2 separate regions of the Homo sapiens genome follow, and region 2 is linked to region 1. A link means that fine-mapping ties the variant in region 1 to the expression of a gene that starts in the linked region. Tissue or cell type: whole blood. Region 1 holds a variant in brackets; the other region holds the start of a gene. All regions are shown on one strand. Distances are from middle to middle.

Region 1 (2,760 bases):
AGGTACACAACATGTAAGTATACAATTAATACACTGTAAATATCTATTTAATAAATGAACAGAGGAGGTAATAAAATTCTTAATAGCATATTTACCTTACATGTGTCTGTTGTTTAGCTAAGACACCCCACATATCACTAATAATCTGTAAATAGATTTTGAAACACTTTAGAAAAGCTGTGTTGGGAAAAATGATATTTTAAATAAAGTATCTTCTAAACTGTAAAATAACTTTTAATGAAAATATAAGTATAGAGATAACTCAGAAAATAATAATCACAACAACATAATCTTATATTTGTATAGTATCTGATCAAAGCTAATATTCAACAACCCTGTTGGGTAGATTATATCATCCTCGTTTTGTAAATGAGCAACAGGTTCATATGGATTAAATGATTGCCCTGTAGGTAGACAACTACTAAGAAGCACTGCAGTCTTGAAACCAGATCTTCTGGCTTCAAATTCACATTCAGCGCTGCTTCCACCATGCCAACGTTGTTGGCAACACCTCTTCTTAACAGTGCACTCAGAAAACTGGAGAGCTGGCTCAGAGGTTGATAATCACAGCTGGAAGCATTCAAAACACAGTCACTGTGCTTTCATATTCAGCAATAATGAGGAGGTCATCTAATCTAAAATCGTATCTCCAGTACAAATATTCTCTACAACACTGATGACAGGCTGTAATCCAGCCCTTAGAATCCACCAGCTGCTGCTTGAATCTATAACACTTTCCTTATCAGTCGAGATCAGTTCTGGTCAAAAGTCATACCTCCTGGAATTGGCCATGATTCTAAGGAGCCAGATTGTGTGTAACCTTATTTTCAAGGCACAGGCTTTTACCATATTTCAAAGTAATTATCCGCTTTCCATCTACATCTTTTCTTCTTTAAACGAAACAGCCTAGCTAATAGTTTTCATCATCTCTCACCACTCAGGTTGCTGTCTTTTGCATATGTTCTGGATGGCCAATGCTTAGTATTTTTTGAGTACCCACTAGGTGCAAACCCACATAAACTATACAAAAGTGCAAAGCACACACAAAGCCTAGCACACAGCAGGAACTGACTCTTAACTGATTAGAGATTAAAAGTGCTGTCGGAGTACACAGCTGAATACCAGACATAGCCCAACGATAGGGGAAGGTGCAGAGCCCGAGTCTCACTCTTCCCTTGCTTTTAAGTGGACATGATGCGAGGCTCCTAACAACATCTTTGATCTTTCAGTTCTGTATGTTAAAATGGAGATAACATTTGTCTACCCCATAGGGCTGTTGAATAACCAATTTAAATACTCATGTGAAAATGTTCTATACAAAGCAGAGTACAAATATATAATATGAACAATTGTTATAATACAGAATATTCTACAAATAAATGACATTGTGTTAACACAGAAATCACTGGCCAC[G/A]TATCAGGAAACTTTTAAGGTCTGTCGTCTCTTTTTCCATCACAGATTAACTTCTGTTCATTCTCTTAAGACACATTTGGTTACAGAGTGCACAATTCTTAAAGAAAAAAAGAGAGGGAATATCACACTTGCTTTGATCTTATTTATATCTGGGCTTTGAATTTTATCGTCAAAGCCAACTTGGGGACCTAAACATTTTATCTAGTTCATCAACACATTGCAAATACTCTGTTTTTTCTTTCTGATTAATAATAAACACAATCCAGGAGTTATTGCACACTGCACAAATCACTTAGGTATATTTTAAATATTTTAGGGAAATATTACATTAAAGGTAAAAGCCAGTAATAATTTACACAGGCAAGTTGTATCTGGGTCAATATGGTCTCTGATCATGCCTTCCAAAATACATGACTATCGGAACTTGAGCCATCCTTTTCTGATGTCTGTTTTATGCTAGCAGATAGAATATTTTGAAGCTATATAAATGTCTATCAAAAGCTATCATTAAGAAAACATAGAATATGTTACAGTAAGCCCATACAAAACGTTGTATCAGATAAATGTGGCCAAGTATATGCGACTACTATGTAAAAACAAGAAAATATTCTATTATAAGAAAGAGCTCTTAAGTGATAGACATACCTTTCTAACAATAGCAACAAACACTACAAGAACAACTGGAAGCAATAATGTCTTTGTGTATCTCAGTGGAGTCTGAAATTCAAAGAGATGTTTTGTTAGAAGGAAACATTTTAACCAAACAAAATTTCATTTCAAATAATGAAATAGGTAAATTTCTGAAAGTAGAGAAATATGAACATTCACCAATCTACTCACTGACTGCCATCATAAAAAGGAAGGTGCATTTCCATAGAAATGAACTTCCCCAAAATGCTGAGTTGAAACACTAAAAATACAGTACCCAAACACCTGTAAGTGTGAAATGTCACTGAAGAGATTACTGCTCACTTTTTGCATGCTACTTATCTAACTAGAGAGACCAACTTAATATTCATCTAAGGTATGTAAAGCTCCTTAAATGGAATAAGCTTTTCCTGTATATTTTGTGGGGGATAAAAATATTATCCTTGAAACACACACACACACACTTTCTCACGCATAAACAAAATAATGATCTATGTTTGAGGGGAACAAAAGGCTTTTACATTTTCTTTAGTAGCAGAAAAAAAATAGAAATAAGTTTAATAACAAAGCCCTACACATTGTGAGCCTGTGCACCTCTCAATTATCTCTCCACCCAAAAAACCACTGTTAAAATTTTGCTTTTATACTTTTTTTACTTTTATGTGTGTTAATTATGGGTTAATAAGACTATATCATTTT
Region 2 (2,760 bases), 91 kb after region 1:
TTGAGTCACCAAGGGAATCTGAAAATATACTAAGGGATAAATCAACAGTAATTAAATAGTTCAGTAGCGAAAAGCCCACTGAGGCATATAGAAAAAAGCAATGTAACAGCATTTCACTAGTTGACTTAGAAAAATTAGGCCTGTTATCCAAACTGCTACAACTTGCCTTATCAAAATTCAACCAGGAAACAGAGGAAACCTGAAGTCAGTCCGAAACATACGAATGCGTCAACTTTGTTTTTTTTTTTCAGCACATCATTACACATCATCCATTTGGTAAATGGCAGAGGGAGGGGAGGAGAGCCCTCCTCACCAAAGGTTCCAAGGGCAGCAGGGAGGATTAAGGCTCGGGCGCCCCAAACACAACACAACCTAGAAAGTGACGTGTCGAGGGGAATCACAAATAAAGTGCCACCAGCGGCGTTTGCGGCCAGGAAGAAAAAAGTACGCTAAAATTTAATTATAAGTTTAAGCAACTCTCTACGACATGGAACGTGCGTTTGCTTTGAGCTCCACGGAATCGTTTCCAAGCCAAAGCAAACCATCCTGGCGGTCAGAGGCCGAGATAACGGGAAGGCGGCCAGTCGTACCAATCAGCAGCGCTCAAGTCTCGTTAGCGCAGACCTGCTGCCCGCGGCCAGGCCGGGCAGCTGTTGATCCCCGGGCCATTCTTTTAAAGCCCAGGCAGAGCGCGGGTGGGAAGCGTGCGAGGAGAGCTGAGCCAGGGAGTTGCGGGGAGGAGAAGGTAAGAATGTCCCAGAGAAAAAGTCGGAGAGGGCTGCAAACTGGCTGGTCCGGCTGGCGGGGCTCGGCGCGGCGGAAGCGGGAGGAGAGGGGAAGGAAGGGGAGGGGAGGGGAGGGGAGGGGGCCAGCGCCTCAAAGTTCCGCGTCCCGGCGGCGCCGGCGCTAGGGCTGCTCACCTAACAGGAGCGTGGTCCAGGTCCGGCCGCGCCCCGCGCGCCGCAGGCCCAGCGCCCAGCGCAGCCGGGCGGCCAGGCGCCCCCCAAGGCCGCCCCCGGCGGGCGGCGCGCCGGGCTCGGCGCGGGGCCCCTTCCTGCCCGCGGCGCCCTTGCGCCCCGGGGACAGGGGCGCGCGCTCGGGCCCCGGCTCCCCGGCGCCGACGTCCGACGCCCCCCTCAGCGGCGACTGTGAGGCGCGGGGTGGCTGGGGCGGCTTGGGAGCCGCCTCCCGGTGCTTGTTCCGCGCCTGCAGGACCATCTTGGCATAGTCGCGCCCGCTCGCTGCGCGCGCCCGGACGGCGGCCAGAGAACGGCGGGCTGGCTGGGCGGCTGGGCGCAGCTCACTCTCCAGCGGGCGGGCGGGCGGAGGGTGGAGGGCGGGCTCGTCCCTCCCCGCGGGCCGGGAGGCGGGGAGATCGTGGAGGCCGGGCGGCTGCTGCCTGGCTGGCAGTACCGCCGGGAGGCGGCGCCGGACTTGCTAGCCCGCCGCCGTTGCCGCCGCTCCGGTTGTCACGGCGACCGCGGAACGCCGGGGGGCGGGGGCGGGGACACCCTGCGAGCGGCCGCGGCCCCGCCCCCGCCGCCCCTCTGCGCCGGACGCGCGCTCCAGGCCGGCCAGCGCGCACGCGCGGACTTCCGGCGCAGGCGGGGCCCGACCCCTCTGGCGCCCGGCTACCCACACCTCTTCGGCGCCCGCGCGGGGCTCGGCCGGTGCGAGGACGCGGGGGCGGACGGCCTTCCGGAGGCGGCCGCCCTTCCATTGTGGGAGTGATGGGGCCGAAGGAAGAGCCCTCTCGGGATCGGGGCGCTGATTCAAGTTTCGGAGCCTGTTAAGGCTGCGCTTGGAGCCCGCGCAGGCGAGACGCGGCGGGGCAGGGAGAAGGCGCCCGGAGCGGCCACTTAGGGGCGCTGTGCGTGCGCCCTGGGCGCCTGGTCGGCCCCACCGATGTGAAGCGCGCGGGTGGCAATCAAGTCACCGTCTCCGTTTACTCCCCGCAGTGTGGTCGCGCAACTTGGAGCGCAGCCCCTCACTCACCGACAAGAAGAACGGGTGCGACCCGATTTAAGATAGTAACAGAGTATTAAAATAGCAGCCTGGAATCTCATGGGGAGCTGATAAGGGACGAGGCACAAGTGTAAACTGAAGACCAGGGTAGGAGCCAGGCTGAAGGTGATAGGATGGATTGGCTGGAGCAGGAAAGATCATCAATAAGTACATTCAGTTTGTTACACTTGCTGTAACCTTGTTGCTTAATAGGAAGCAGGAAAACTTGGCGTTGATAAGATAGGAGATTTTAGTCGAAAATATGTTTTCTTTTACATAGCAGAATGCACGAGTAAATTAAACCCGGGAAAATTTAGAAACCCAGGTAGATCCCAATTCTCCCTCCACCCCTGCATTCTTTGCACACAGTCTTACAACAGCATGGATTACAACTGGGAGGTTCCTTTCCTGGCCGTGCCCAGTGGCTTGTTCCAAAAAGTTGTCTTTAAGTCCCAATGTTGTAAATCAAGGCCCATCGTTCTGCTTATCTCTATTGTAATTCCAGGGACTTCACGTGGCTTTCTCGCTCTTTGTTTCTTTGCCCAGTGATTTCTTTACTAATACCAGCATTCGTTCATTGTTAGCCTTTTTAAGAGACAGTGGATTATTTTGTAAAGGGAGGGTGTTTGCCATGCTAATTAATACTCCCTCATACCCTGTCTAGTTTATGAATTTGGATTTTCCAATGTCTTTATTGGAGCAAAGAACAACTATTTTTATACACTGGTTTAAAAAATAATGGTTGAAAGTAGGATG

Evidence for each region. PIP is the estimated chance that this variant, and not a neighbour inherited with it, causes the effect.
Region 2: it holds the start of DPY19L1, and the variant in region 1 is fine-mapped to the expression of DPY19L1 in whole blood (INTERVAL, PIP 0.98).

What each region holds. Positions count from the first base shown.
Region 1 is chr7:34,945,572-34,948,331 of GRCh38, forward strand. It overlaps DPY19L1 (dpy-19 like C-mannosyltransferase 1), which reads right to left. Exons shown (of 22, transcript NM_001366673.1): 15 at 2,059-2,130; 16 at 96-145. The region is part of intron 2 of LOC102724723 (a long non-coding RNA gene); the gene reads left to right. Among named protein-coding and RNA genes, the nearest start is that of MIR548N, 6.1 kb to the left of the region's middle. The variant G/A (reference allele first, on the strand shown) is at 1,414.
Region 2 is chr7:35,036,177-35,038,936 of GRCh38, forward strand. DPY19L1 (dpy-19 like C-mannosyltransferase 1) reads right to left here and starts at 1,309. Exons shown (of 22, transcript NM_001366673.1): 1 at 921-1,309. The coding sequence starts at 1,218. LOC105375228 (a long non-coding RNA gene) reads left to right here and starts at 610. Exons shown (of 3, transcript XR_001745162.3): 1 at 610-745. RefSeq lists silencers at 999-1,168, 1,199-1,868 and an enhancer at 1,919-2,148.